3 separate regions of the Homo sapiens genome follow, and all the other regions are linked to region 3. The links come from fine-mapping of genetic effects on gene expression. A gene starts in region 3. Each other region holds a variant in brackets. All regions are shown on one strand. Distances are from middle to middle.

Region 1 (10,814 bases), 48 kb before region 3:
AAGGTGGAAAGTGGAAGGTGGAAGGTGGAAGAAGGTGGAAGGTGGAAGGTGGAAGGCAGAAGGTGGAAAGCGGAAGGCGGAAGGTAGAAGGTGGAATGTGGAAGGTGGAAGGTGGAAGGAAGGTGGAAGGCGGAAGGTGGAAGGCAGAAGGCGGAAGGTGGAAGGTGGAAGAAGGTGGAAGGCGGAAGGTGGAAGGAAGGCAGAAGGCGGAAGGCGGAAGGTGGAAGGTGGAAGGTCAAAGGTGGAAGAAGGTGGAAGGTGGAAGGTGGAAGGCGGAAGGTGGAAGGAAGATCGAAGGTGGAAGGTGGAAGGTGGAAGAAGGTGGAAGGTGGAAGGTGGAAGGCGGAAGGTGGAAGGCGGAAGGTGGAAGGTGGAAGGTGGAAGCTCGAAGGTGGAAGAAGGTGGAAGGTGGAAGGTGGAAGGTCGAAGGTGGAAGGTTGAAGGTGGAAGAAGGTCGAAGGTGGAAGGCAGAAGGTAGAAGGTGGAAGGCGGAAGGTGGAAGGTGGGCGGAAGGTGGAAGGTGGAAGGTGGAAGGAAGATGGAAGGCGGAAGGCGGAAGGCGGAAGGTGGAAGGTCAAAGGTGGAAGAAGGTGGAAGGTGGAAGGTGGAAGAAGGTCGAAGGCGGAAGGTGGAAGGTGGAAGGAAGGTGGAAGGTGGAAGGTGGAAGAAGGTGGAAGGTGGAAGAAGGTGGAAGGTGGAAGGTGGAAGAAGGTGGAAGAAGGTGGAAGAAGGTGGAAGGTGGAAGGTGGAAGAAGGTGGAAGGTGGAAGGTGGAAGGTGGAAGGCGGAAGGTGGAAGGCGGAAGGCGGAAGGTGGAAGGCGGAAGGCGGAAGGTGGAAGGTGGAAGGTGGAAGCTCGAAGGTGGAAGAAGGTGGAAGGTGGAAGGTGGAAGGTCGAAGGTGGAAGGTTGAAGGTGGAAGAAGGTCGAAGGTGGAAGGCAGAAGGTAGAAGGTGGAAGGCGGAAGGTGGAAGGTGGAAGGAAGATGGAAGGCGGAATGCGGAAGGCGGAAGGTGGAAGGTGGAAGGTCAAAGGTGGAAGAAGGTGGAAGGTGGAAGGTGGAAGAAGGTCGAAGGCGGAAGGTGGAAGGTGGAAGAAGGTGGAAGGTGGAAGGTGGAAGAAGGTGGAAGGTGGAAGGTGGAAGAAGGTGGAAGGTGGAAGGTGGAAGAAGGTGGAAGAAGGTGGAAGGTGGAAGGTGGAAGAAGGTGGAAGGTGGAAGGTGGAAGAAGGTGGAAGGTGGAAGGTGGAAGGAAGGTGGAAGGCGGAAGGTGGAAGGAAGGTGGAAGACAGAAGGTGGAAGGCGGAAGGCGGAAGGTGGAAGCTCGAAGGTGGAAGAAGGTGGAAGGTGGAAGGTCGAAGGTGGAAGAAGGTCGAAGGTGGAAGGCGGAAGGTGGAAGGTGGAAGAAGGTCGAAGGCGGAAGGTGGAAGGTGGAAGGAAGGTAGAAGGTGGAAGGTGGAAGGTGGAAGAAGGTGGAAGGTGGAAGGTGGAAGGTGGAAGAAGGTGGAAGAAGGTGGAAGGTGGAAGAAGGTGGAAGGTGGAAGGTGGAAGAAGGTGGAAGGTGGAAGGTGGAAGGAAGGTGGAAGACAGAAGGTGGAAGGCGGAAGGCGGAAGGTTGAAGGTGGAAGGTGGAAGGTGGAAGGAAGGTGGAAGGTGGAAGGCAGAAGGCGGAAGGTGGAAGGTGGAAGGTCGAAGGTGGAAGAAGGTCGAAGGTGGAAGGCGGAAGGCAGAAGGCGGAAGGTGGAAGGTGGATGGTGGAAGGTACCAAAAAAAACAAAAAACAAAAATTAGCCGAGCGTGGTGGCACACGCCTGTAGTTCAGCTGCTCAGGAGGCAGAGGTGGGAGAATACCTTGAGCTTGGCAGGCAGAAATTGCAGTGAGCTGCCACTGCACTCCAGCCTGGGCACCAGAGTAAGACCCTGTCTCAAAAAAAAAAAAAAAAAAAAAAAAAAAAAAAAAAAAAAAAAAGAATAGGCAAATCCATAGAGACCAAAAGGAGAGTCGTGGTTCCAGTGCTGGAGGTGGGGAGAATTGGGAGTGACTGATAATGGGTGAGGTTCCTTTCTAGGGTGAGGAAAATGCTCTGGAATTAGGTAGTGGCAATGGTTGCACAGCCCTGTGGATATACCAGCACCAGTGAATCGAATACTCAGATGGGCACTGAGAATCTGAGGCTGGCCGACTTATAGCCTCTACTCCTCTTTCCACTTCAACATCTGGGGCTCTCCCTTCTCCCTACTTCCCAAAGCATCTCCACTCCCTGTTTAATTGTGACCATCCCTAGAGGGCTGGCAACAGGTTTCTTTCCAAAGCAGCTCTGCAGGGTTTGCCCCGCCCCTCCCTCTCATACCCAACCCCCTCCTCTTTGTACCCAGACCGTTTACTTATTAAACCAATTAAATTAAATGACTCACATTGCACCCTTGGGCATGAGGCGGGTAAACAGCTCACCAGAGTCTGACTTGCTCTTGAAAGGGCCCGTTTCCCTCCCAGCCCAGCCAACTCCCCTGACCAGCCCCCCAGCGTCCAACCCCCCCATGGAGTGTCTCTCAGGTCACAGTAGGAAGAGGATCGGGGGAGCTGCTAGCCCTTCCCATTGTGCTTTCTCACCCCAAGGAAGGCCACACCCCCTCAAAGAGTTGACACAATAGTCTTCTTATTCCACTGCTTACAAAGCCAGCAGGCAGCTAGCTCAGCATGGCAGAAATCATCTGGAGCCCTCTTGCCCGCCCCTTGCTGCTACATCTTACCCCTACAGCAGCACCAGCGCCATTTCTCTGGGTGCCCCATCCCTGTCAATGCCTGCTTTGAGCTGGATGCTCTGGAGTGTCATGCAGCTAACTAGGTTAGGCAACCTGGGTCCATCGCTCATCTTGCCTGGAGACGAAAGGGAATGGTTCCGATTATTTCTCCAGGCTCCAAGACCTGTGAGCTTTCAGTTCAATGAATGTGGACTGAACTCACTCGGCCATGGAAGGGAACAAAGGTATGCCAAACAAGGACTCAAGGAGGACACAGCAGGTCTCGTAGGGGCGAGTGGATAATTTTAGTGAAATGCAGCAAGGGATGAAACAGGGTATGTGTGGAATAGAGATGTCCTGGCCTCCTCTCTTTCTTGCTCCCACCACCCACAGCACACTTCTCTGCCTTGCTGAGCATGGCACTGGGTGGGGTCACACATTAACAAGTCTGGCAAGATCTTCCCTGGGCCACGCTTAGAATAACCCAGCTCCGCTCTCAGCACCTCCTTCCAAACACCACCTCGGAGGCATCCCTCCTGACAGTCTGGAATCCAGGAGGGAAGTGTGATTTGAGTCAGATCCTGTCCTGGAGTGGAACCGCATGCTCTTGCCACCCCCCTACCCAGGCATTTCCGGCTTTGTGTATTTATAAGACTCTCTTGAACTAGGTACCAGCAAATAGGAGCAGAGACCTGATTTAGGTCAATGAAATCTGCACTGGGGAGAGTAAAGACACCCTGAGAGCAAGTTGGTATTTTTTCTCCTATTCCGTATCCGGGTTTCAGTATCATTTAAATCCCCTAGAAAGCCTCCCTCTCTTCCCATTCAGTGTTGCTTCCCAAGTTTCTCCTGCCCTGGAAATCTCCTTTCCTCCTGTCCTCTCCACGCGCATGAGTTTCCTAAAGCACAGTGGCTCCAGGCCACCTTCTAATGTTCATTTATGATTAAACAGCTGCATTTTGCAGAGCACTTGTCAGCTGTTAACAAGCCCATCCATCCCCTCCTAGGCGGGATCTGAGCTCTCAAAGGGGGCTGGGGGTGGGGCGAAGGTACAGCAGTAGGTTAGTAGGTGCAGGTGTGCAGGGGTCCTCCGCCCCATCAGCTTCAGACACGTTGTCCATCATCTTTGAAGTGTTGGATGACAGGCAGTGATGGGGAAAGCAGTGTTGTCTGAGTGTGTCTGTCTTAGACACCTGCTGGGTAGGAAAAACCAGTAGAGTGTATCTCCACCACTCCTAAGTGGGGCACCTCCCCAGCAAGGCTGTTAAAGGTATGCGCCTCTGTCCAGGCATGAGTCACACGCTGTCCTGCCAACCTCACAAGGTGCATGAGAGGAAAAGACCCTGGTTCCCTGGCTCCTTACTGAAAAATAATTGTGTATGAAAGGCCTCCTGGGGCACTTTGTAGCATGAGACAAAGAGAGTTGTCTAGTTCTCCCTTACTTCGGCTGAAGTGGTAAGTCTGGGAGGGTCAGTCCTCAAAGTAGTATGTTTGTAATCTCTGCTTGGGCAAGAACAGCCTGGAGCTCTGCTGGAAGGGCCTGTGCAAATCAGAGGTCAGAGGGAAAAGGTAATGGGTGAAGTGTTGAACATGGGGTTTGGAATAGTGACAAATATTAAGTGAGAGGAATAAGGCCGATCGGAGGCTGTGCCCAATTCTGGGGGACATCTGCAGAGAACCAAACCTCGGGTATAATTTAAACATTAAAAAGCTGTTTTATTGCTTGAGACCATGAGTTTGAGACCAGCCTGGGCAATGTAGTAAGACCCTATCTCTATAACAAATTTTTAAAAATTAGCCAGGCATGGTGGCACACACCTGTAGTCCCAGGCACTCAAGAGCCTGAGGTGGGAAGATTGCTCAAGCCTGGGAGTTCGAAGCTGCAGTAAGCCATGATTGCATCACTGAACTCCAGCTTGGGTGGCCTGGGTGATGGAGCAAGACCCTGTCTAAAAAAAACAAAAGTAAGTTGTTTCAAAATATGCACTGGACCTTCTGAGGTAACAGAGACACCTTGAAGGATCTGGAAGCTTTCTCTTCATTAACGAATATGAATTGGATGTCCCCCTAGGGACAGGTCTGGGCTGGCAGGGCCAGC[G/A]GAAAAGACAGTAAGAGAAGACATTCTGTCTCCACTGGCTGTGGGACCTTGGGCCGAGTCATTTTTCAGATCTCTTCCAGTTACAATGGATGATCATGAGAAATTTCTTTCACAGGTTAGTATCAACGCTCTACTCAAGCACTCCTGACAGGTGTCCACCAAGCTACTACTGGATTTCCAGGGGCAGGTGTCCACCAAGCTACTACTGGATTTCCAGGGGCAGGTGTCCACCAAGCTACTACTGGATTTCCAGGGGCAGGTGTCCACCAAGGTACTACTGGATTTCCAGGGGCAGGTGTCCACCAAGCTACTACTGGATTTCCAGGGACAGACGTCCACCAAGCTACTACTGGATTTCCAGGGGCAGGAATGTTCCGCATGCCACAGTCACGGGCCCTACAGCTGGAATGCTGCTACCTAGTGCTTTTCTTTGGTAGGGCCTCCTAGAATAAGCCCTACCCTTTTGTGAGAAAGTGCTTCCACCACAGATGTAAACTCTTGTATGTAAACACAGAGCCACTCGCAGGGCGTAGGGTGTGGGGTGAGGGATGTAGGGTGGAGGGCGTGGGGTGAAGGGTCGCCACAACAGCAGTGCCCCAGGCCACGTGGCTCCTTTTCTCTGAGCTCTGTCAGGTCATTTACATCCATGTTCTCTGTTCCCACAGTGTCCAAATTCCAAGACAGTGGAAGCGTCTGTCTAATCCACCAGACAGCACCCAGGCCCAGTGACACTTCCAGACGGGGGCTCTGTGCCAAGGGCAGTGTAAAATGATGGGGTAAAGCCACTCAACAGAACACTGTGGTGAGTTAAAAGGGTGTGGAAGGCCACACACACTAACCCAGAAAGGTGTTCAAAACATATAGTTATGTGAAAAAAGGTTGCCATATATATCACAAAAGTGACACTATCAAAAAAACGCTTAAATCTGTCATGGCCAGTAGGAACTTAGGGAGACCCAATGACTACAGAGGTCTAGGAACAGAAAAGGGATATCTGAAAGGAATTCAGGATACAGTATGAACTTGAGTTAATAATAACATCCGATATTGGTTCATTAATCATGACAAATGTACCGGGGCTTAATGCAAGATGCCAATAATAGAGGAAACTGGGTGTGAGCAAAGTGAGAGCTCTCCAGACTACCTTTGCAATGTTGGGTAAATGAAAAACTATTCTAAAATTAAAAATTCATTTAAAAATGCACTTGGCCGGGCACGGTGGCTCACGCCTGTAATCCCAGCACTTCGGGAGGCCGAGGCGGGCGGATCACGAGGTCAGGAGATCGAGACCATCCTGGCTAACACGGTGAAACCCCGTCTCTACTAAAGATACAAAAAATTAGCCGGGCGTGGTGGTATGTGTCTGTAGTCCCAGCTACTCGGGAGGCTGAGGCAGGAGAATGGCGTGAACCCGGGAGGCGGAGCTTGCAGTGAGCCGAGACCGCGCCACTGCACTCCAGCCTGGGTGACAGAGTGAGACTCTGTCTCAAAAAAAATAAATAAAATAAAAAATAAATAAAAATGCACTTGTAAGTATAGGAGCCTCTATGTGTATGTGTACAGGCATCACAGAGGCATAGAAAACACTTAGAAGGCATATTGAATTTTTTATGGTGCTTACTTCTGTGAAAGCACCTTTTAATATTATATACCTTTGAATTTTAAAAAATAGAAATAAAATGTTTTTAAGTAGAAAAAAGAGATGGAAATGAAAATATAGGAAGATAACAGTTTTAAACTTCTCTGTATTTCATTGTCCCTGTGATTGAAAGAGCAGTGGGCTAGAAGTCAGGAGACCAAGGTTTTGGTCCTTGTTCTTTCACTGGCTTTGTGATCCCAGTGACCTCCTGATCCTTGGTTTTCTTAGTTATAAAATGATGATATTTAAGGACCATTGTAAGTGTTACACTCTATGATTTGATAATAAACACACACAAATGAAGAACGATTTTCCTGTTGCTAGCAGATCCATCATGGATGCCTGAAATAATAAAGCCTGCCTAATGAATTTAAAATAGTTCCTAAAAAAAAAAAATCTGAACTGCATAGAATGTTTCAGGGACATACCTATAGGCATACTGTACCTGTGCTGTATTAGAGGGTAAAAAAATGAGACAGACAAATCGGGTTACAATCTGATTTATAAGAAGAGTATCAGCTGATGCTTACCTGGCTCAGATCTATGCAAATGAAAGAAGACAAAAATAGATGGATGGAGTTGCAAATGGCAACTCTCCCACTTGTCACTGATCTAGGGCTCTTCATGGGAGAGGGTTTAAAATCCTTGGTGGGTTCCACAGAGCTTTGTCTCCAGCTCCTCAGTCTCCTCCCCCAACTCCTATCAACCCCAGAAGCAGGATAATTTGAGAGGTAGACCTATTCAGACCCCTATCTCTCTGCAGACAGCAATCCTGGGCCCCAGCAACATGAAACAAGGGTCTTCAGGACACTCTCCCCCATGACAATGAAGTGTGGCAGGGAGACAATACTTCATGCAGTGGGAACATTCTGAAAATGGACAGGAAAGCATGAGAAAGGCCAGAAAATGCAAAAGCCAAACTCAAGGATGGGGCAAATGTTCCCCCAGGCAAATCTCAGCAAGCGCCAATTCTTGATTTCAGGTTTCTCCAAAGCAATTCTCCAATCCAAGATGGATCAGGGTTCAAATGGCTGGGCAGACGGCCCTTCCTTTCCCCTCTGGGCTTAGGGAGTCCAGGGTTGGAGGCTGCAGTGGGAACAGAGGAAAGGGGGCTGCTGTAAGAGCCGCTGATGCTGCTGTCAGTTCTCTGGGCGAGGTTGGCCTGGTGGTCACTGTCCCTCTGCTCTTTCACCAGCTGTTAGTTAATTCTAGGAGGAGAGGGAAGCCCCAAGTTGTCTCAAAACAGAGCTACCAAATAACTAATTAATTCACTCATTACATAGTATAGAACATCTGTTAAAACCTCTGGTGAGGCCAGGCGTGGTGGTTCACGCCTGTACTCCCAGCACGTTGGGAGGCCAAGGCAGGCAGATCACAAGGTCAGGAGATTGAGACCATGTTGGCCAATATGGTGAAACCCTGTCTCTACTAAAAATACAGAAAACATTAGCCAGGCGTGGTGGTGTGCACCTGTAATCCCAGCTACTCGGGAGGCTGAGGCAGGAGGATCGCTTGAACCCAAGAGGCGGAGGTTGCAGTGAGCCGAGATCGCGCCACTGCACTCCATCCTGGGCAACAAGAGCGAAACTCCATCTCAAAAAAAAAAAAACCTGTGATGAATTCTTTTTAAGACTACATTTTCACACAAGGGTTTTTGTGGGGGAGGGCAGAAGGGTTAAGAGACAGAAGGGTTAAGGGAATTAAGGGCAGAAGGGTTCAGAAAGAGAAGATTTGACAACATGGTGATGATAATTAATAACAGTATGTGGGGTTTTTTTGTTTGTTTGTTTTTTTGACAGAATCTCACTCTGTTGCTCAGGCTGGAGTGCAGGGGTGCAATTTAAAGCTCACTGCAGACTCAAATTCCCGGGCTAAAAATTAGCCAGCCATGGTAGCCCGTGCTTACAGTCCCAGCTATTTGGGGGCTGAAGTGGAAGGATGGCTTGGGCCCGGGAGGCGGAGGTTGCAGTGAGCTGAGATCACACCACTGCACTCCAGCCTGGGCAACAGAGTGAGACGCCATCTCAGAAAAAAAGAGTTCGGGGGCGGGGGGGCGGCTGCGGGGTGGAGAGAGGAGGCTGGATTTGAGACACGTTTCATGATTGTATAGAGGTGAGAGGACTAGTGGTCTTTATATTTTACTTAAATTCTGGTGTATAGTATTGGATTTCATTTTCTTTTTTTTTTTTTTGAAAAATTGTGTTTTTGTTTTTGTTTTTTTTTTATAGACAGGGTCTCGCTGTTGCCCAGGCTGGAGTGCAGTAATGCAATCTCAGCTCACTGCAGCCTCGACTTCCCAGGCTGAAGTGATCCTCCTGCCTCAGCCTTCACTTTTCTTTCTTTTTAAGCAATGAGCATGTGTTACTTTAACACTTTTTTTTTTTTAATTGAGACAGAGTCTCACTCTGTCTCCCAGGCTGGAGTGCCTTGGCATGATCTCGGCTCACTGTAACCTCTGTCTCCGAGGTTCAAGTGATTCTCCTGCCTCAGCTTCCCAAGTAGCTGGGACTACAGGCGCGTGCCACCACACCCAGCTAATTCTTGTATTTTTGGTAGAGACGGGGTTTCACCATGTTGGTCAGGCTGGTCTCGAAATCCTGACCTCAGGCAATCCACCCACCTCAGCCACCCAAAATGCTGGGGTTACAGGCGTGAGCCACCATGCCCGGCCACTTTTACACTTTTAAGAAGAAGGCAGTAGGTGGTCAACAGTGTCAAATGCTGCCAGGTGAATGGGAGGCAGCTGTTCAGAGATCAGTGGATTGGGGAACTGAGGTCCACCCAGGTTCACAGACCTTAAATGACTTGCTCTAGTCATCACGAGCTTATCTGTATGGTAAACAGTAAGAAAGGAGGGCTTGGCTGTTAGGAGTGCAGGTGGGGGTGGAGGAGCAAAGCTGACTTTGGCATCTTTCATCCAACAAGCAACAAGTTCCTTAAAGACATTAATTCACTGCTCCACACAGCAAAGAGGCGTGAGCAGTGAGCCTGAGGTTCATTTTACAGGTCAGAAATCTGAGATGCAGACAGGAAAAATGCTTTATGCAAGAGCCTGCGGAGGATTTGACAGCTGATGGCAGAGAAGTCACAGCTCCCAGGAAACATGGGCTTTGAGGAGGGAGGTGGCTGTCAACAGAGTGAAAAAGAGGCTGTGTGAGTGGCAGCCATGGCTTGGTGGCTGGGGCAGAGTTGAGATTGTGAGGTGTGGTCACTGAGCGGATAGGTGTGTCGGTGAGAGAACAGGTATGCAGGGCTGGGACTGTAAACCAGGGAGGCTGTGGTCATGTGAGTCACTGCGCACACGCTCACAATCCCCAGGATTTCCTTGCTGGGAAACAGGGTAGAAAACATCAGCCAGCAGCTGCAAACCCAAAACTTCCTATTATTGCCTCTGTTGAGTCACTGCATCTTGTCTAGCTGCTAGTTCCTACTCAAGAACTTGTTTAGGAGGGCACAGTGGCTCACACCTGTAATCCCAGCACTTCGGGAAGCCAAGACAGGAGAATAGCTTAAGCCTTGGAGTTCGAGACCAGCCTGGACAACACAACAAGAACCTATCTCTACAAAAAATAAAAATAAAAAAATTAGCCAGGGTAGTGGCTCACGCCTGTAGTCCCAGCTACTCTGGAGGCTGAGGTGGTAGGATTGCTTGAGCCCAGGAATTAAGGCTGCAGTGAGCTATGATCACACTACTGCACTCCAGCTTGGGTGGCAGAGCAAGACACCCTCTCAAAAAGACAAAATAAAATAAAAGAACTTGTTTAAACAAAAAGGAAAAAGTGCTCACGTGTCACTCCTCCTGAAATAATAGCAAGGGTCGCTACCCTCTGCAAATCTGTGCTAAGAACACCACTCACTGCCTTCCAGATTTTAACTTCCCTTGCTTCATGTCTTTCTTGGCCTCCCTCTTCCTCAGTCTTTCTCTTAACATTTCATCTTTCACCCGCCTGTTTCTCCTTTCTCTTTCCAATCCCTTTGTATCCGTCTCTTAACATGTCTCTCAGCCCTGTGTCCCTACACCTCTTGCCTGTCCTCATCATTTGGAACCAATGCAACACTGGAAGCAGACCCCTAAAGCTGTGATATAATATTTTACCTTCAAGGGAGGCCCCAGAGCGTATAATTAGGAGGCAATGAGCGCAGCTGCCAGGCAGAAGAGGCGCTTAACTACGACAGTTGCTCCAAGTCAGAGCACCTGATGCCGAGGGCTGCAGGACGCTGGGACACAGGAAGCCCTGTCAACAGGTGGTCCACACAAGGTCAGCCAACTGGGTCCATGCCCGGGGGGAATGCAATGGAGAACACCCTCATAAACAAGTTAATCTGCCTAGCTCAGATCT
Region 2 (10,814 bases), 30 kb before region 3:
CAACACAGCAGAGCTGCAGACCCGGCTTCCATTATTTCATGGGGATACTTTTCTAAATAAAGATAAGAAAGCTACCCAAGGGCCAGACTTACCCCTGAGCCCAGCAGAGTCAGGGCTACCATTAACCCATCCAGTGTCTTTGTGCCTTCCCCTCAGGCACGCAGTTTGGCAAGTGAAGCTCATGCTAGAGTCTGGTCCGCATTCACCCCCTAAGAAGGGAGCATCTCTGCAGTGAACAACCTGCATAGCTGTACACAACAGCCCCAAGCATAGGCCTAGAAACACAGCAGGTACTTCCAAGTGCTGAAAATAGGAGGCAACCTTAGAGGTAATTTTACCTCACCTATTGCATGCCTGAGGTCTAGATGACCCTTTTGTTTCTTACGGTACGTTTGGCGGAGGGTACATTGATCAGCTGAACTAAGGTTTACAAAGAAAGTTAGGGGGACTAAGGGGAAAAAGAACGACCCAAGAATTCAGGAGGAAATGAGAAACCTCAAAGAGAGCAACTGGAAACCCCTCCCCAGGAAACTGAACCCCTAAAGCAAACCCTTTTAGGGGGCAGACCTGAGGTGACTAGGAGCATGGGTTCTGAAGTCAGATAGACCTGGTTTCAAATCCTGGCTGTTACAGTGTGACTGTGTAACTTGAGACAAGTTATTTAACCTTTCTGAGCTTCTGTTTATTTAATCTGTAAAAGAGAAGGAAGCTCTGAGATTGAAATGAGCTGCCACATACAAAGTGCATCCATTGTGCCAGGAACACAGAAAGTGGTCCACACATTCTTATTATTTAATAGTAAAATGCCGGCACTGTGCTTACGCTATGCAGAGCCAGAACAAGAACTCCAGGCCTCCTTTTTATACCCAGGTTTCCTCACTTGTAGCTAAAGGGGTAGAGGCTTTTCACATTTTCAACCTAACGAGTGAAACCTGAGACTAAATCCGGACAATGCTCTCATTAATGATTCTGTTATCAAAGAATACATAAGAATAAAGACTCCCCCCCGCACACATTAGGCCCCAGTCAGCCTTTCCAGTTTACTCCCCCCATCACTGCCTCAGGAGCCTGGTGCTCCAGTTTTTGGTGTGCATTGATTGATAGGGCTGGTGACAAGGGGACAATCTGTGGGTCTTCTCCTACACTCCTGTTCCAATGTCCCAGCGTCCAGTACTACACGGGTCTCTGAGATGGGGAAAACCATATGCTCAGGAAATTCTCCGAAGCCATACAAGTTATACCTGGGTGCTGGCCTCAACACCTTAAGCTATGGTCCCACCCAATCCTGCATGACTACTATGGGATGGTAGAAAATGGAGGAAGAGGGAGGGAGACTCCAGCGCTCATACTCCTGAACTCTTGGCTTCTAAGTTCAGTGTGAGAGCTGGTTAAGCAGAATTTAGTTTAATGTAAGGGGTTGGCTGTTTGGGACCCCAGATGCAATGTGAACGCTGACTGATGAAGCTAAGAGTCTTTACATTTAAGAACGGACAATGAGACCTTTTCCTTTGTTTCTTGCTTTTTTTTTTTTTTCTTTCAAGGTATTATACAAGGTCTCACTCTGTCTGCTGCCCAGGCTGGAGTACAGTAGCACGATCATGGCTCACGGCAGCCTTGACCTTCCGGGCTCAAGCAATCCTCCCACCTCCCCACCTCAGCCTCCCGAGTAGCTGGGACAACAGGCGCACACCACCACACCCAGCTAATTTTTGTATTTTTTGTAGAGATGGGGTTTCACCATGTTGCCCAGGCTGGTCTCAAACTCCTGGGCTCAAGGGATCCTCCTGCCTCGACCTCCCAAAGTGCTGGGATTACAAGCATGAGCCACTGTGCCTGGCCAACCAGGCCTTTTTCTAATGATGACCTATGTCATTAAAAATGAGAACTTCATTGAGGGAACCTCACGCTGAGTGAACTATGGAGAAGTGTGGACTGCCTTTCCAACACGGACTCTACTGCTGATTGGGTGATCAATTTCCAGGATATTAATAAAACTCACCCCCTACCTCTATCTATTGTTACTTTTCATTTTTTTTAAACTGCCTCCAAATCTGCACAATTCATGTTTTAATGAAATAAAAACTGTGTCTGAGGCAACATAAAAAGCAAATGAATAAAAGCAGGAACTGCTAAGGAAAGTGGCTGAGATGAGATGCTCTCATTGTTTTCAAAATCTTGCTAGATAAAATGGTGAATTATATCCTTCTCGTGAAAAACCAAAAAAAAAAAAAAAACCATTATATTTCAACACTGTACAGAAGGTCTTAGTTCCTTACAATAAGGAATAAGTAAGAGTATGTTGAGTTTTGAAAGAAACTGCCAAACTGAATTCCAAAGTGGCTGTACCATTTTGCATTCCCACCAGCAATGAATGAGAGTTCCTGTTGCTCCATGTCCTTGTCAGCATTTGAGGTTGTCAATATTTTGGATTTTGGCCATTCTAATAGGTGTGTAGTGATATCTTATTGTTGTTTTAATTTTCATTTCCCTAATGACATATGATCTTAAACAGCTTTCCATGTGTTTACTTGCTATGTTTATATCTTCTTTGGTACTGTCTGTTCAGGTGCTTTGCCCATTAATGGGGTTGTTTTCTTATTGTCTTTGTATGTTTTGGATTACAATCCTTTATCAAATATGTCTTTTGCAAATGTTTTCTCCCATTGTGTAGACTGTCTTCTTGTTCTTTTTGACATTGTCTTTTGCAGAACAGATTTTACATTTAAGGAAGTCTAGCTTATCAATTGTTTCTCATGGATTCTGACTTTGGTGTTGTCTAAAAATCTAAAGTCACTGGCATACCCAAGATCACCTAGGTTTTCTCCTATGTGGTTGTCTAGAAGTTTTACAGTTTCAAATTTTACATATAGGTCTTTGAGTTGATTTTTGTAAAGGGTGTAAGAACTATGTCTAGGTTTTTTTTTTTTTTGCATATGTGCACCACTTGTTGACAAGACTATCTTTACCACATTGCATGTCTTTGCTTTTCTATCAAAGACCAGTTGAATATAATTTATATGGGTCTATTTCTGGACTCTCAATTCCATTCCATTGATCTACTTATCCATTCTTTTGCCAATATAACAGTGTCTTCATTACTGTAGCTCCGTACTCTCTTGAATTCAGGTAGTGTCAGTCTTCTGACTTTGTTCTTTGCCTCCAACACTGACTTGACTTTCTGGGTCTTTTGCCTCTCCATATAAATTTTAGAATCAGTTTGCCAATATTCACAAAATAACTTGCTGGGGTTTTGATTGGGATTGCATTGAGTCTGTAGATCAAGTTGGGAAGAACAAATGTTTTGACAATATCGATTCTTCCTGTTCATGAACATAGAATATCTCTTTACTTAATTAGTTCTTTGATTTCTTTCATGAGAGTTTTGTAGTTTTCCTCATCTAGATCTTGCAAATATTTTGTTAGACTTATACCTAAATATTCCATTTTGGGGGGATGCTAATGTGAATATTAATGAGTTTTTAATTTCAAATTCCACTTGTTCATTGCTGGTATATCAGAAAGCAATTGACATCTGTATCCCTGTATCCTGCAACCCTTCTATACTTGCTTATTAGTTCCAGTTTTCTTGTCAGTTCTTTCAGATTTTTTATATAGAATATCATGACATCTGTGAACAGTTTTATTTCTTCCTTCTCAACCTGTATACCTTTTTTTCCTTTTCTTGTCTTATTGCATTAGATAGGACTTCCAGTATAATGTTGAAAAGGAGCAGTGAGAGGTGGCTTTCTTGCCTTGTTCTTTTTTTTTTTTGAGACGGTCTCGTTCTGGTGCCCAAACTGGAGTGCAGTGCCATGATCTCCGCTCACTGCAACCTCCGCCTCCTGGGTTCACACAATTTTCCTGCCTCAGCCTCCCGAGTAGCTGGAACTACAGGCACCCACCACCACACCTGGCTAATTTTTTTTTGTATTTTTAGTAGAGACGAGGTTTCACTATGTTGGCCAGACTGGTCTTGAACTCCTGACCTCGTGATCTGCCCACCTCGGCCTCCCAAAGTGCTGGGATTACAGGCGTAAGCCACCGCACCCGGCCTATTGCCTTGTTCCTGATTTCAATGGGAAAGCTTTGAGTTTCTTACTATTAAGTATAATGTTAGTTGTAGGTTGTAGATACTGCTTATCAAGTTGAGGAAGTTCCCCTCTATTCCTAGTTTATTAAGAATTTGTATCACAAATCAGGCTGGGTGTGGTGGTTCATGCCTATAATCCCAGCACTTTGGGAGGCCGAGGCAGGCAGATTGCTTGAGCTCAGGAGTTCAAGACTAGCCTGGGCAACATGGCAAAACCCCGTCTCTACAAAAATACAAAAATTAGCTGGGCATGATGGTGCACGCCTGTAATCTCAGCTACTCAGAAGGCTAAAGAGCAAGGATTGTTTGAGCCCAGAAGGTTGAGGCTGCAGTGAGCCAAGATTGCACCACTGCACTCCAGCCTGGGCAACAAAGCAAGACTGTCTTAAAAAAAAAAAAAAAGAATTTGTATCATGAATAGGTGTCAGGTTTTGTCAAATATCTTTTCTGTATCTATTGATATGATCATGTAATTTTTCTTTTTTTGCCTATGTGATTAATTACATTAATTGATTTTTAAGTGTTGAACCACCCTTGCATACCTAGAAAAAATGGCCATGATGTATAATCTTTTTACACATGTTGGATTCAATTTGCTAATATTTTGTTGAGGATTTTTGCATCTATGTTCATAAGAGATATTAATCTGTAATTTTCTTTCTTGTAAGGTCTTTGTCTGGGTCTGGTATTAAGGTAATGCTGGCCTCATAGAATTAGTTAGGTAGTATTCCCTCTGCTTCTATCTTCTAGAAGAGATTGTAGAGAAATGGCATAATTTCCTCCTTACATGTTTAGTAGAAATCATCTGCAGACCCATCTGGGCCTGGGGCTTTCTGTTTTGAAAGGTTATTAATTACTTCTTCAAATTCCTTAGTAGATATGACTATTCAGATGGTTTATTTCTTCTTGTGTGAGTTTTGGCAGATTGTGTCTTTCAAAGAATTGGTCCATTTCATCTAGGTTGTCAAATTTTGGGGTGTAGAGTTGTCCGTAATTTTTTTTTTTTTTTGAGACAGTGTCTCGCTCTGTCACCCAGGCTGGAGTGCAGGGCATGATCTCAGCTCACTGCAACCACCACTTCCCAGCTCAAATGATCCTCCAGCCTCAGCCTCCTGAGTAGCTGGGACTATAGGCACAAGCCACTATGCCCAGATAATTTTTGTATTTTTTGCAGAGATGGGGTTTTGCCCAGGCTGGTCTTGAACTACTGAGCTTAAAGTGATCTGCCCACTTCTGCCTCCCAAAGTGCTAGGATTACATATGTGAGTCACCATACCCAGCCCATAATATTCTTTTATTATACTTTTAATGTCCATGAGATCTGTAGTGATGTCTCCTCTTTCACTTGTGACATTAGTAATTTGTTTTTTTTTCTTAGTTAGCATGGCTTAGAGGCTTATCAATCTTACTGATCTTTTTAAAGAAACAGCTTTTGGTCTTATTAACTTTCTGTACTGATTTCCTATTTTCAATTTCATTGATTTCTGTTCCAATTTTCATTATTTCTTCTGTTTTTGAAATTTAATTTGCTCTTTTTTCCTAGTTTTCTAAGGTAGAAGCTTAGGTCATTGATGTTAGATCTTTCTTCTCTTCTAATATAAGCATTCAGTGTTATAAATTTCCCTCTAAGCACTGCTATCACTGCATCCCACAAATTTTAGGTTATATTTTCATTTAGTTCAAGATTTTTACATTTCTCTTGAGATTTCTTCTTTGACATAAGTGTTATTCGAAAGCACATTTTTAAATATCCATATATTTGAGGACTTTCCAGTTATCTTTCTGTTATTGATTTTTAGTTTAATTCCATCGTGGTCTGAGATCAGACATTGTATAACTCTATTCTTTTGTATTTGTTAAGGTGTGTTTTACCACCCCGAATATGGTCAATCTTGGTAAATGTTCCATGTGAGCTTGAGAAGAATTAGTAATCTGCTATTGCTGGATGAAGCAGTTCATAGATGTCAATTATATCCAGTTGACGGATGGTGCTGTTAAGTTCAATTATGTCTTTACCAATTTTCCGGCTGCTGCATCTGTCAAT[T/G]TCTAGAGAGATGTTGAAGTCTTCAACTCTAACAGTGGATTCATCTATTCTTCCGCTTTCTTTTTATTAGTGTTAGCATGGTATATTTTCCTCCATTCCTTTACGTTTAATCTATATGAGTCTTTCTATTTAAAGTGGTTATCTTGTGGAAAATATACAGTTGGGTTTTGTTTTTAGATGCACTCTGACAATCTCCATCTTTTAATTGGTTTATTTCGACCATTCACAGTTAAAATGATTATTAAAATACCTGGGTTAATAATATCTATCATATTTATTACTATTGTCTATGTATTGCCCTTACGCTCTCTTTCTATTTTTGTCTTCCTTTCTTTTTCTGTATTTTGTGGGTTTTTTTTTTTTTTTAAGTTCTGGGATACATGTGCAGAACATGCAGATTTGTTCCACAGGTATACATGTGCCATGGTGGTTTGCTTCCCTTATCAACCCATCATCTAGATTTTAAGCCCTGCATACATTAGGTATTTGTCCTAATGCTCTCCCTCCCCTTGCCCCCCCACCCCAACCCCTGACAGGCCCCAGTGTATGATGTTCCCCTCCCTGTGTCCATGTGTTCTCATTGTTCAACTCCCACTTATGAGTGAGAACGTGGTATTTGGTTTTCTGTTCCTGTGTTAGTTTGCTGAAAATGACGGTTTCCAGCTTCATCCATGTCCCTGCAAAGGACATGAACCCATTCTTTTTTATAGCTGCAGTCTTCCGTGGTTTTAAGCGAGCATTTTAATGATTCCATTATTTCTCTCCTTTGTTAGCATATCAGTTATACTTTTTTTTTTTTCCAGTGGAGCCCTAGAGTTTACAACATACAAGTAAACCACATCTGCTTTCTTTTTTCTTTTCTTTCTTTTCTTTTTCACAGGGTTTCACTCTGTTCCCTAGGCAGGAGTGAAGAGGTGCAATCATAGCTCACTGCAACCTTGGGCTCCTGGGCTCAAGCAGTCCTCCCACCTCTGCCTCCCAAGTAGCTGGAGCTACATGCATGTGCCATTGTTAAAAAAATTTTAAAAATTTAATTTTTAAATTTTTTTGTAGAGATGGGGTCTTGCTATGTTGCCCAGGCTGGGACATCCACTTTCACACAACACTATACCACTCCACAGGTAGTGCAAGTACTTTACAATAACAAAATATTCCTAATTCTGCCTATTCATCTCTTGCATTAATGCTGCAATTCATTTCACTTATATATAAGCATACATCAGTATATATGAGCATACATAATTGAATACATTGTTATAATTTTGAATAAACCTATCTGTTAGATCAATGAAGAATTACAATTTTTATTTTACCTTCAGTTATTCATTCTACAACATTCTTCTTTTCTTTATGTAGATCCAAGTTTCTGACGTATCATTTTCTTTCTCTTTAAAGAACTACTTTTAACATTTCTTGCAAGGCAGGTCTACTGGCAACAAATTCCCTCAATTTTTGTTTGTCTGAGAAAGTATTTCTGCTTCACTTTTGAAGAATCATTTCACAGGGTTCAGAATTCTAGGTTGATGGGGTTTTTTTTTTTTTTCTTCTTCTCAGCTGTTTAAATATTTCACTTGACTCACTTCTTGTTTGCATCTCAAAGTGCTAGGATTACATACGTGAGTCACCATACTGGCCCATACCCGGTTTCTGAGAAGTCAGATGTTAATTCTTATCTTTGCTTCTTGATAGGTGTTTTCCCCCTATCTGGCTACTTACAAGTTTTGGGTTTTTTGTTTGTTTTGGAGACAGGGCCTTGCTCTGTTGCCCAAGCTGGAGTGCAATGGTGTAACCACAGCTCACTGCAGCCTCAGCCTCCTGGGCTCTAGTGATCCTCCCACCTCAGCCTCCCAAAGTAGCTGGGCGCATGTCACCATGCCTGGCTAATTTTAAAATTTTTTTTTGGTAGAGACAAGGTTTTACTATGTTTCCCAGGCTGTTCTTCTTGGTCTTCTTCTTCTTTTCTTTCTTTTTTTTTTTTTCAAGATAGAGTCTCGCTCTGTTGCCCAGGCTGGAGTGCAGTGGCACGATCTCGGCTCACTGCAACCTCTGCCTCCTAGGTTCAAGTGATTCTCCTGCCTCAGCCTCCCAAGTAGCTGGGACTACAGGCATGCGCCACTACACCGGGCTAGTTTTTGTATTTTTAGTAGAAACCAGGTTTCACCATGTTGGCCAGGCTGGTCTCGAACTCCTGGCCTCAAGTGATCTGCCCGCCTCAGCCTCCCAAAGTGCTAAGATTACAGGTGTAAGCTACCACACACGGCAAGACTTTTTTTAAATCTTTGACTTTCCTTAGTTTGAATATGGTCTGGCTAGGTATTGTGTTTATTGTTTTATTTTGGTGTTTATCCTGCTTGATGATTTCTGAGCTTCTTGGATCTGTGGTTTGGTGTTTATCATTAATTTGGGGAAAACTGTCAGTTGCTATCGTTTCAAATATTGCTTCTGTTTCTCTCTTTTCCTTCTGATATTCCATTATGTATATTTCACCTTTTGTAATTGTCCCACAGTTCTTGGATATTCTGTTATGTTTTTGTCTTTTTTCTCTGTGCTTTTCAGTTTTGAAAGTTTATGTCGTCATATCCTAAAGCTCAGAGATCCTTTTCGTAGCTGTGTCCCATCTACTAATGAGTCCATTGAAGACATTCTTCATTTCTGTTAGAGGGGTTTTGATCTCTAGGGTTTCTTTTGATTCATTCTTAGAATTCCCATCTTTCTGCTTACATTAGCCATCTGTTCTTGCATGTTGTCTACTTTTTTCATTAAAAATTTTAATATATTAATCATCATAGTTTAAAAAAATGTCTGGCCTCTCTAACACTTCTTCCATACCTACTCTGGTTCTAATTGTCCAGTCTCTTCAAAATGTGTTTTTTCCCTTTTAGTATGCCTCGTAACTTTTTGTTGAAAGTGATGTGCTGAGTAAAACAAATTATGAAAAGGGCCTTTAGTGATATCGTGGTTAGGTGTCCAGGAGCAGATGCATTCTATAGTTTTATCTCAGTCTTTCAATGAGCTTCTGCCTCTGGACTGTGATCTACATCAGACTTCTCCCCACTCTAGATGGGACAGGATGACCAGAAGGGGCTGGTGTTGGGTATTTCCCCTCCCCTAGGTAGGTTAGGACAGCAAGTCAGGCTCGTAAAATAGTTTCCCCTGAGGGCAGGCCTTGTTAAGAAAAACAGAATAGGCCGGGCTTGGTGGCTCACACCTGTAATCCCAGCACTTGGGAGGCCGAGGCGGGTGGATCATGAGGTCAGGAGTTCAAGACCAGCCTGGCCAAGATGGTGAAACCCCATCTCTACTAAAAAGACAAAAATTAGCCGGGTGCAGTGGCAGGCACCTGTAATCCCAAGTACTCAGGAGGCTGAGGTGGGAGAATCACTTAAACTTGAGGGGTGGAGGTTGCAGTGAGCCAAGATCACGCCACTGCACTCTAGCCTGGGTGGCAAAGTGAGACTCCGTCTCAAAAAAAAAAAAAAAAAAAAAAGAATATTTTGGTGTATTTCAGAATGCTTTCTTTTTCCCTCCCCCTGCTGGAAGTAGAAGGGGATTTTTCTCCAAAATGTACAGGGAGGACTTGGTAGGCTCCTAGAGGTAAAACTCACACAAGCTTGGGACTGAGTCCCCTGGAATTTTTAATTCTCAGACTTGTTCACACTGAGCCTCCAGTAATTCATCAATTACAGTTTAGGTTTTCCTGCCTAGACACTGGTTTCTGCAGAGGTTTCTGCTCATGGATTTCTGCTTTGGTAAGTTGTGATTCTCTGCATCTGCCTACCTGTCTCCCCAGTTTTGGGGACAGCAGTTTTCCTTCTCACCTCCCTTCTCTGAGGAATCTAAGAATTGTCGATTTCCCAGTCTGTTCAGCTCTTTACTTGTGGTTAGGACAGAAGGGCAGAGATTCTGAGCTCCTTACATGGTAGACCAGAAGTTGACTAGGTTTAAAAATCAACTTTTTAAAGTATAATTTATATATAATAAAATGTATCCATTTTACACGAACAGTTCCGTGAGTGTCGATAAATCATATGCTTGTATCGCCTCAGTTATTTTTTAAGCTTCCTAGGCAATCCCATTCGTAGCTGAGGTTGAGAATCATTGTTGTCATTCTCAGTCGCCAGCCGAAGCCTTGGGTCTATCGACCCTGAGGTCATTCACATATTTCTGGGTCTTGGTTTCTTCACATCTCTTGCTCCTAGTGGAACATCTGTAAACACCACCCCACCATGGGGGTCCCAGTTTGCTGGTTCCTAATGTCATAGAATCAGACTCCAAGTAGAGATAGAAAATGTATTTGTGTGGTCAAGTGATTAATCTACCATTCACATATCTACTGAGCCTGATCCATTTCCCATAGCTGGTTTCTCCCTCCTTTTCTCTCAACTTTGCTGCCCTTGGACTGTAAGTACATCTTTCTTCTCAGTGCCCACGCTTGCTGGGGATGTAGCAGCCTCCTCTCACATCAGGCCAGGCTTGTCCTGTCCCTGGCACATCCGTGCTTGTTTCCTCTGTCTTCATCCTCCCTCATCATCTAAGTCCTCTGCATCATACACCCCAGTTCAAATCCCACCTCCAACACCACGTCTTCCTCCTCTATGCCAGAATTCACTTCTCATGAGGGTGCTTCTGGGTGCTGGGGAGAACATGCCAAAGGGATGTGTTATGTGTGACGTGTATATT
Region 3 (10,814 bases):
GAGCTGACACATTCATAACGAGAAGGTACTTATCTGAGCGCCTAGTATGTGCCCAGAATTGAAAGTTGATTAGAAGACACACATAGTAGCCTGGTGACTGGAATATCAGCATAAAGAGCGATAAACCGGACACGTGAAAAGGAGCTACACGAGAGGTAAACCACGTGAAAAGGAGGTTCCCTGGGACAGAGAGGCACACACCCACCAGAGCTGCATGAGACACAGTCCCTGCCCACAGGAGCACACGAGGCGGTTGTGCTTGCTGCTTCACTGGGTTTCAACTCCATGCCACACTATCCCTCCTCTGCCCACACATCTGTCTCATTTGCTTCTCCCTCTCTCCCTGCCTGCATCTCAGATTACTGCTGTGCCCTGCATTACCTCTCTCACTGGAGGGTTTGTATCCTTTCCAAATCAGAACGGCTGTGGTGGCCAGAGCTGCAGTCACTGCCTCACACCGCGGGTGTGCCTCCCTCAGCCCACTCGAGTCAGCCAGAAGTCACAAAGGCCAACCAGAGAGATGTGGTACAGATAGAGGTAAGGCAGCGAAAGCCAACGGCTTCCTGAGCTTCAGAATACTTTGGGATCCAGCAAGTAATCCTGGCACTTAAATGGGAGATCTAAAAGGAGCCAGCACATGCCATCCTTCTGTCTTGGATTTGCGCCCAAATGTCATCCCTTGGCTCTGAGATATTTCATCTCTAGAAACCATTTTTTTTTTTTAAGTAGAGTCTCGCTCTGTCACTCAGGCTGGAGTACAGTGGTGCAATCTCAGCTCACTGCAACCTCTGCCTCCTGAGTTAAGCAATTCTCCTGCCTCAGCCTCCCCAGTATCTGGGATTACAGGTGTGCGCCACCATGCCTGGGTATTTTTTTAATCTTTTTTAGTAGAGATGGGGTTTTGCCATGTTGGCCAGGCTGGTCTCGAACTCCTGACCTCAAATGATCTGCCCGCCTCGGCCTCCCAAAGTGCTGGGATTACAGGTGTGAGCCACCACCCCCGGCCTCTAGTCCAGAACTCTGCCTTCAGATAGAATCTTTGCTGATCCAATATGAACAAATGGGTATATAACTTGTGAAAACCTGCCTAATTGGAGAATCTTTAACTTCCAATAACAATTTGTTCCCAGGGCTGCTTTTCAGCCAGTACACACCAGGATAGCCGTACCACTTATTAAAACACTGAAATCCTTAAGCATGTGTTAGTACAGTGGCTGCCCCAGGCCCTCTGAGTGTCCCACTGCCACCCGGACCCCTCCCCAGGACAGCTTCACGACCCAGCAGCTAAAGAGTTAATGTTGGGCTCAACAAGGGGACTCGTCAGGACCCTGTTCCAGAACCACCATGCCACACCAAAAGTATTGTTACCCTTACCCGTCCCATTCTACAATGCTGCCGTATTCTAAAACTTTCAACTGCTTTCTGCTAGCTACTGAATAAATGCCACTCTTTAAGGTCTTTATTCAGCCTTCCACATACAGCATCATCCTCTATTCTTCTTATACCCTCTGTTTCACCAAACTCAGCTGCTCAGTATTCTCAAACATAAACTTTCCCCGACTCTTGGTCTTTGTTGACGTAACTCTTTCTGTCTCGAATAGCCTTTCTGTATCCACCAAAATCTTACCAACTCTTCAAAACGTCCCAAAATGTCACCATTTCCATGAAATATTAGTTGGGAGAGCTGTGCCCCCATTTCAAGAGGTGTCACAGAAACATATGCGTCCTATGTTTGCAAAACTTAATGACTGCTTTATATTACAACCATTTTGATATAGGCACCTTAGCTTTCCTCCTAAATGAAGCTGTAGATGCTAGAAACCACATCCTGGTCATCACACCTACACGGCCTGGCACAATGCCTGGCTCGAGGTATGCGCTAAGTAAATATTTGTGTAAATGAATGCGTGAACAGTCCTAATTCTTTTGTCAATTTTCTATTTGTTAAGGATTTTGGTTGTTTTTCTCTGAAGCCACTCCAGTTGTGGTTGTATCTCCTTCTGCATATGGAACCAAATTGCACATCATCCACATCTTAAACTACTGGGTTATTTCACGAAGATAAAGAAGGAAATATGCTCCCCTGTCATTACTGGTAACCCTGGAGTTTGTGACTGCCATCTCTCCATACTCTTCTTCCAGCACCAGATCCAACACAGGGACAGGCAAATGAAAGGTTCCTGGTAATGGGGGCTGGCCTTCCAGATGACAGGGAGCTGGTGGGTGGTGGAGTGAGTTGGCAGGGATTGCTAGAGAGGGGAGGCAGGGTGGCTTGCTGGAAAGCAGAGCCAACAAGCTGGTTCTGGTTGCTGTGGTTGAGGCCAGAGGTACAGGCCTGGGAGGTGCAGTTTTACTACCCTGGTTCCTGTTGGTATCCAAGAGTGTGGAGGTGGGAATGCTAGCAACCCCCTTCCCACCTCTCCTTTCCTAATGCCTCCTCCCTGGCTCTCCCTCCAGAGGAATAGCTCTGAGCTGAGAATGAAACCTATAGGAAAAGAGGGAACTTTGATGCAAGATGTCTGGGCTTCTTAACAACAAAAAAGGATGGGAGACAAGGAGGCAGAAACCACAGCTCCAGTCTAAATCTTATTCCACAGGGAAATCGAGAGTAGAATATAACGGGACAGCGCAGGACAAAAAGACACCCTGCACAATAGATGAATTTCAGGGTTCTAAGAGGAGAGAGGAAACAAGGTGCATCAGTGTGTGAGCTTAGCCTCCTGTTAAAAACCATGAGTAAGGAAACGAAGTCAATTCTGGCATAGAGGCTGGGAAGAGTTTTCTGGATAATTGGTTTGGAAAAGAAAATAAAAAATAAGGAAACCCAGTCAGAGAGTTAAGATTCTTCTGGGAGGGGAACCCAACAGACTCAAGAATTGATGGCTCGGAATGAGGCGGCCCACGGGAGACAGAGGCAGAGGTCGAGGGCCAGAGTGTCAGATTATGACTGTGGCAAACTAGATCCAGGTTTGGGGAGAAAACACACCGGAGGTAAAAGAAAAGTGAGGAGAGGGAGAAAGGGAGGTTACTGATTCCAAGGTCACAAAGCAACTGCCTTTCTCTCTGTTTTTAATTTGTGCACAAGATCCCACTGGCTAAACAAAATGATGGCTACACTGGGAGGAGGTGTCGCCTCCCAGGCCCCCACCCACACACACTCCAAAGGAGCTCATCCATTTGGGCCTGAGTGGCCATGGCGGGGGAGAATAGATTCACTCTCTGTCTTTCAGAAGGAAGAACAAGGCCCAGAGGAGGGAAGAATTCACTATGGGCGGCAGATTTTGGTCATCAGAGGAAGGGGCTCTGCTGCTTGGAGTCGTGGCCCCGGGGTGGAAGCTATGGCTTCCTGGTGATGTGCTGAGCTCTCTGGCCCTGGAAACGCTTGCGTGCAGATCAGTCTTCGTATCCAGACTGAAAGACACCTTGGAGATCATTTGGACCAAAGGCCTCATTTTCACCTGAGAAGCTGTCGTTTTTCCCTTGATTCCCCCGCTAGTTAGTGGCAGAGCCAGTCTCCTCTAACTCACAGCCGGAATGATTTCCATCACCACAGAAAGGTTAGGCCATAAATATACATTTCCAACCTGAACCAGCTCAGCGACTGTCCCTAGTAATTCTCTCTCTTTGGCCACAAGAGAAGGCACAGCACCACACCCAACTCTGGGTAGAGAAGCTGACACGACGACAGGTCAGAGTCAGAGTATCTTCTCAGCTGCTTGCTCAGCCACTCTGTCCGAGTTTCCCCAAAGCGGGAGGAAAGTGAAGGCATGGGAGGCCACGTGCCAGAACTTTGAACCTCGGCTCCCCGGGCTTGCGTTGGGCACCTGGTAGTAACGGGAGTTTCTCCATTTCTTTTCCCAACTATTACAGGATCTTTTACGGCCCCTGTCACTGTCAGTTTTACTTTGTTAGGCCCATCCACAGTACGTTGAAAACCACCTCGCACAGCCATACCTATTGATGTAAAAAGGCAAAGAGACCACGCTCTCCTGTTTTCCTAGGAGGAAACTGAGGCACGGAAATATTAAGTGGCTTTGGCTAAGTTAAAAACAGAAGTAGGAATCTACCTGCTGCCCGGTCCACTGTGCTGTCCATCATCTCCTTAAACTGGGGAGTTTGGTAGATTTGCTCAGGGTTCAGAAAAGTGGCAGAAGGGGCGGCCCGAACAGGAGAAAGAGGGCGCAGCGAGGAGGTGGGAGATTCAAAGAGCCGAGGACGGAGGCTGGGAGAGGAGCGACGTATGGGAAGCGGGGAAGAGACGGGACTCTCCGAGGTATGGTAAAAAAGAACCCCCCTAGAAGATGCAGCAGGAGAGGAAACGGAGTGAGCCAAACAGAAGGCGGTGGGCAAAGTTTGGGCTGCGCGGACTGGAGCGCGCGCCTGGGTGTGGACGGCCGAGGGCATCCCGCACCCGAATCCCTAGCTCGCGCGTGGACCCCACGGACCTCCTCCCCGGGAACCGCAAGCCCGGAGCGGCTGGAGGGGCCCGGTCTCCGCCAGCGTCTCGGCGGGACGGGCGGGGAGCCTCTCTCCGGGTCGCTCTCCGAGGGGAGACGCGAGGAGCCCCCAGGGTGCCCCGGACCCACGTGGCCGGCGGGCAGGCCCGGGCTCGGGAATTCTGCGCTCGGCCCCGCGGCTTCCCCCGCCCGCAGCTCTCCCCGAGTACGCGCGGGGCGACGCCGGGCACCTGAGGGAGAAATGGGTGGGAAATCGGGTCTGAGGATGGGATGAGAGGCGGGTCCCCCCAACGCAGGAGCCGCCGCCGCCGCCCACCCCCGCGCCCTTCGCCTCCCCTGGGTGCTACTTACTCCGGTTCAGGGGGTTCCCGCCGACCTGGGCCGACGCCACCAGTTCCAGATACAGAGTCCAGAGCCCCACAGACACCACGGCGAGCGCCAGCAGCAGCCGGAAGCGCCTCCGCAGCAGCTTCACCGGGCGCAGGAGCAGCGGGGGCCGCGCGGCCCGGGGGCTCCCCATGGCGCTGCGCCGAGGCGGCCGCCGCCAGCGCGGGCTCCAACCCCCCGAGCCGCCGCCCCCCGGCCGGGCCCCGCGCCCAGGGCGCCCCGCGTCCCGGCCCAGCGTCTCAGGGCTGCGCCGAGGCCGTCTCTCCCGGCCGCTCTCCGGCGGGGCTCGGGCTCATGCTCCGGGCGCGAGGGGTCTCCGGGCTGCGCGGGCGCCCAGCAGGTCTCTCCGGGAGCCGAGCCCGGCTCCTCCTCCGCGCGTGTGTTCCGCGCCGGGCTCTCCTCCCCACGCCTCTCCCGTCGCAGGCTCGCTGCCGCCCTCCCTCCCTGCGCGCCCGCCCTCACTCGCTGCCCAGAAGGAGGCTTCCCCGGCGCCCGCCCGCCTGCCTCCGCCCGCGCCCCCGCCAGCCCCGGACCGGGCTCCGGGCTCTGGGCTCTCCTGCTCGCGGAACCTGGCCCGCCCCCGGCCCCGCCCCCGCCCCCGCCCCGGGCACAGGTGGGCTCCGCCCCCGAGAAGCCAGGGACGCGAAGAGGCCATTCGGCTTCCCTAGGGGAGCGAGAGGTGGGGCCAGAGAACTGGTGCCTGGTGCCTCCCCCGACTGGGAACGGGTGGGATGAGGAGGGGGCGAGTGATGATGCGGACTCTGGGTGACCGAGGGAAACCGAGTCACCACCCAGGCGCCTAACGGTGTGGTTTTAGGCAGAAGCGAAGTAGAGGCTGGTTTGGGCGACGCCCAAGGCTTTAGCCTCAGAGCCTTTCGTCGCCAACAGCAACGACCCGACTCCCTGCTTGACGAAACCAGTAGGCGTGAAATATCACGGGAGCCACTGGACGCTTAACGCAGACATAGCTTCGTTTTCCAGTTGAGATTTGAAGACCTTTCTTCCCAGCCTGAACCACATCTCCGAGAGGCGCTGGGGAAGTCGTACAGCCCCCACGGTGAACCCCAGCAAGCAGTTTTCCCCAGACTGGGCTGGAATGGCTGTTTGAAGAGAGTAGGTGTTTGAGGGTTCCGAAAAAGAATTTTAAAAAGAAAAGAAAAGTATTCACTCTTAGAGTTGAAAAGATCAGCAAGATAAGCCAGGCACAGTGGCTCACGGCTGTCGTCCCAGCACTTTGAGAGGCTGAGGCAAGAGGATCTCTTGATCTCTGGAGGTCAAGGCTGCAGTGAGCCGTGATTGCGTCAGTGCACTCCAGCCTGGGCAACACAGCAAGACCCTGTCTCAAAAAAAAAAAAATCAGTATTCCAGTCCTCTGCCTTCAGGCAGGTAAAGCATTATTATCTGATTTAAATTAGATAAAGTATCAAGGGGCAGAATAACTGCCCCAGGTCACTCAGCAAGTTATACTGCAGTTTTCTTTTCCATTATCTCTTCTGGGAAAAATGGTCAGGAGACTATGGGAAAAGTGAAGGATCAAAGTGTTCCTGGACATTTTAAAATCAAATGAATATCACACAAGTACTGTTCCAAGACAGAGGTTCTCACAGAATTGAGAACTATGTTTCCCTTCTCTCTGTTCTCACCTCAGTTGGATATTCAATAGTTTCTACAGGACTTTTCCTAATTAGCCTCCCCAACTCCAAGCTTCCCATCGCATCCTGTCCACTACCACCAGATGGTCTTCATAAAAAGCCAGGCATGGTGACACACACCTGTAGTCCTAACTTACTCGGGAGGCTGAGGTGGGAGGAGTGTAAGGTTGTAGTGAGCCACAATCATGCCACTGCACTCCAGCCTGGGTGACAGAGCAAGACCTTGTCTCAAAAAAAAAAAAAAAAAAAAAAAAATCCCGTATGTAGTCACACACCTGCTCAAAAATATTTAATGGCTTCCAATGCTTATTGATTAAGATACACACTGTAAATCCAGAATTCAGGGCCTTCCAGAACCTTTTCCAACTTTATGTGACCACATGAAACCTGCTCCAGCTAAAACGAGTTTATTCACTACCCTCCAACACATTTTCTTTTCTAGTTGGTCAACTTGTACCCTTTATCCAAGGTCCATTTCAGATTCTATAAAGCTTTCTTGGACCAGCCAAGTCCTAAGCAACTCCTTCCTTTCTGGAGCTTTAGTAGAACTTGCCATCTGTCTCACCATCTGATATGTTGGAACTTACTTGGAGTGTGTGAGTCTTGTTTTCCCAACCTCACTGTAAGGCTTCAAAAATGGGAGCTGCATTTCCAGTGGGTGGTACAATGTCCACTTAGCACTTAGGAAGGTTTGAGGATGGGGGTAGCACTTTGAGCAAACATCTTCCAGAACTTTCACTGCAGTTCTTTAGCAAAAAGGGTGAATCCAAAGGACAATTCTCTAATTGTAGCCCCTGGGAAAGGTCTCTGTGAAGTTCCAAAGCCACAGATTCCTGTACTTCTCATGTTCTTCTTTCTTTCCACAAGTCCAAGATAGGAGCAGCCAGTGTGTGCACGGCCTGTGCAAGCTCGGCTGAGTCAAGTGGGAAGTGACCGGGCCCTGTAAATAGAGTCCCTCTCTTACTAAGGGCAACCCAACTGGATTTTAGGTTGAGTCACTTTTAACACTTTGTCATGGAAACAGGTGGCAGCCTTGCCACAATTCTCTCCTCAAGACTGAGAAAGCTCATGCAATCACTTCGGTCAACCAAATGCTTGAAGCATCTATTATGTAGGAACTGGGAGAGATCTAAAACAAGAAGCATGCTGTTTAGTTGAGGAAAAAAGATAGTCCACAGGAAAAGAAATCTGACAGTTTAAAGGCCAAATTTATGGTCCAAAGAGATTAAGAAGAAGAAGGAGATCACCCTGTACCTCTTGATTTTTTATCCTCCTCTTATTTCTACTTTGTTTTTATAACTTGAGAAGATCATTACTTTTCCAGCTTATGGTGAGAGGTGCCAGGAGTCGAAGAGAAAAGAGGCCAGGACATTCTTGTGGCTCTCCTCTCTCCCTCTTCTGTTCCCTTCTCTTCTGTGGGTGACGCCTTGGCACTGAGATATCCCTCACATTCAGACCCCGCTTTCTCCACATCCCTTTTTGACTCCTGGTGATGTCACAGCAGGGGAAGATCTGAATTTTGAGACCCAAATTTCCCAAATAGCTGAGCTCCAGAACTAAGTATGTGGATTGAGGTATCATGGTGGCATAATATATTGTCACAAATGTCCATTCATTGTCAGTGTCAATTTGCCTGGCTACTCACCAGTTCTTCTGATGGTTTTCACTGTCCTTTCACCCTCCCACTTCAGCTACAGCACCTGACCCAGAATAGCCCAGGGTCACATTGTACAAATTGCACCCAAAAGGAAAAATATTTTCCACCATACACCTGCAATAATGGTAGAAGGGCCCGGTCTTTGCTTGGCCAGAATATCAGAGGCAGAGCAGGTCAAATCATAAAGTTTCTTCTCCCAAATTACAGAGGCATTGTAAGAGAGGTTGACCAAAGTTTTCTAAAATGGGCCAAGGTTAGCACAGGGACCAGAAAATTCTGGATTGTGGAGAATTCAGAAGGGAAGAGTTTAGTGACCTATAGGTATGGTCTGTTGTATGCAGACCAAGTCTTATTCTACTCTATAGGGATGTCAAAATATACTAAGTAACTCCAGTGACCCCTGTGCCACCCATCCTTTTTCCTAAAACCTGACACCTACATTATAAGGTAGCAACTTTGAGCTTAGAGAGCATTTTTACATCTATATTCCATGTGTTTTGTTTCTCACAACCATATGAGAACAACAGGGGAGGTAGCCTCCTCTATTTACAAATAAGCTTTGCAAGCCTCAGTTTCTTCACATGACCAATAAGTGATAGAATCAGAACCGGAACCAGATCTTTAGCCGCTGGTCCTCTTTCCATTGTACCCAGAGACTTCTTCCTTCTCCAGTCTGACCTTCCATATCTATATCCATATCTGTATCTATCTATATCTATATCTATATCTATATCTATATCTATATCTATATCTATATCTATATCTGTATCTATCTTATCCCTGTCTATATATACCTGTGTGTTTGTTGGGCAGACTGTGTTCCATTCTTTGAGAGAAAAGAACAGTGCTGGAAATATCCACAAAGACATGCTCTCCAAGTGCCGGGGTCATTTTGGCAAGCATTTATTTGTTTTATCTCTTTCAACTCATGCAAATCACGTATCCTGGAAACTGTCCTTTCACTGATTCCATTTCATAGATAAAGAAATGGGCTCGGAGATGTTAAATAACTTGCTCAAGGTCATCTACATGACCCATCTCTTAGGACTCAAACTCAGGCTTTCTAACTTCAGATCCAGGGCTTTTTTTCCTTTGCACATGTTCCTCCCCTGGAAGTTCCCCTGCAGAAGTATATTCACTCTGGAAACTCTGAGCTCACCTTCAGCACATCCATAACTCACTCAGCCACATGATAATTCTTCTCATCCCCTCCCCCCTCCCCCCAACTCCGTCACCAATGCTGCCTGCTGTGCTCTTTACAGAAGAGATCCTTTTTCCTAGCCCTCCTTCCATGAGTCCATCTTTTACAAATCTTTCTGCATGGTTTGCTACTATGGAGGCCAATCCCAGAAAAGGATGGATGCCCCCCACTGAATGCTTCTTATTAGCCACTTCTCTTGCTTTTCCAGAAAGCTGGGCTCTTCTGTTTGGCTGATGGAAAGAATGGTATGAGCTCTGGCAAGATCTCAAGCCTCAGTTTCTCCATCTGTGGTCGTACGTAATTTTACAAACTAGACTGGGAAACAGATGAATATCCCTATAGAAGCATCCCTATAGAAGAACATGTTCAAGATTGCATGGTAAAGTGTCAAAGGAATCAGATGAAAGGAGTTAAAGAAAAGATGAAGAAAGGGCGTAGACGTTATGCTGAGGGTCAAAACAAAGCTCATCAGCTGGGAAAAATCCCAGGGCAATTCACATACTTCATCTCACTCCCAAGCAAGTGAGTTGCTGATATAGTCCTCAGCAGACGGTGAGAGGTGACCCAAACCAGAACTATGTGCTTTGAAGTTCTAAGTTTGGCATCTATTGCTAGGCCTTGCTTCCTCTTCCAATCTGCATTATGAATGCCTCCAAATTATTCCAACGTCTCTTTCTGCCTTCCTCCTTCAGGGAGAAGGATTCCCCAGCAAGTCAAGAGACAATCATCCAGGTCAAAAAAATTATCTTTGACTTGTTCAGGCTTTTCAGCTGAGAAATACCAATTATTTCCTACCACTCAGGTTTTCTTTGTTGCTGGCAAACCCAGAGGGAGATAGTGTGAACAGTGCTCTTGGTTGCTCATTAGTTGGTGCTGAGGCCATCTACACGAGCCTCCCCAAAGCTCTACCTCCTGTCTGTCTGACCACTAAACCCCACTAGAAAGACATTCTCTCACCCTTCTCTAGAAAGGCACTCTTCTGTCTGCACTCTGCAGTCTTCTGCTACAGATGCTAGTGAGAGGATGTGTAGCTGAAGCTAAGGCATAATGACCCACAGCTCTGAGTAGCTTCTTCCCCACTCCCAAGTCATGGCACATGTTTGATGTCTGGAAGCTGTGTGGCTCACCATGGTGCCAGGGTAGTGTCATCCCTCTGAGTGAAGTCTTAGTGCTAACTTCTCTTCTCCCAAGGACACATCCCACAGGCTTGGTCCCTACAAGTTTGAGCACACACAGATGTGTATTTGAGCATACACAGATGTGTGTCTCAGCATTTTCAGAACAGGGCATAGGTCCCTAGGACTCTGAGTGAAGCTGGATTTCCTACCGCTATTCTCTCTCTTTCATCCTGAAGAAAAAAACTCATATGCACCCTTCACTCCTGACTTCACAGTTTCTCCAACCCCTAATAGGGCTTCTAAACGACCACATCTTTTCTGCATTTGATAATCTGTACTCCT

Evidence for each region.
Region 1: its variant is fine-mapped to the expression of B4GALNT3 in tibial nerve (GTEx, PIP 0.97).
Region 2: its variant is fine-mapped to the expression of B4GALNT3 in unexposed skin (GTEx, PIP 0.98).

What each region holds. Positions count from the first base shown.
Region 1 is chr12:502,164-512,977 of GRCh38, reverse strand. All of the region lies in intron 1 of B4GALNT3 (beta-1,4-N-acetyl-galactosaminyltransferase 3), which reads right to left. It overlaps LOC124902852 (a long non-coding RNA gene), which reads left to right and starts at 4,808. Exons shown (of 3, transcript XR_007063150.1): 1 at 4,808-4,986; 2 at 5,023-5,130; 3 at 5,203-5,253. RefSeq lists enhancers at 1,550-2,196, 3,040-3,613, 10,703-10,814. The variant G/A (reference allele first, on the strand shown) is at 4,836.
Region 2 is chr12:485,013-495,826 of GRCh38, reverse strand. All of the region lies in intron 1 of B4GALNT3 (beta-1,4-N-acetyl-galactosaminyltransferase 3), which reads right to left. Among named protein-coding and RNA genes, the nearest start is that of B4GALNT3, 30 kb to the right of the region's middle. The variant T/G (reference allele first, on the strand shown) is at 6,135.
Region 3 is chr12:454,540-465,353 of GRCh38, reverse strand. It overlaps B4GALNT3 (beta-1,4-N-acetyl-galactosaminyltransferase 3), which reads right to left and starts at 5,415. Exons shown (of 20, transcript NM_173593.4): 1 at 4,809-5,415. The coding sequence starts at 4,977. RefSeq lists an enhancer at 5,264-6,247.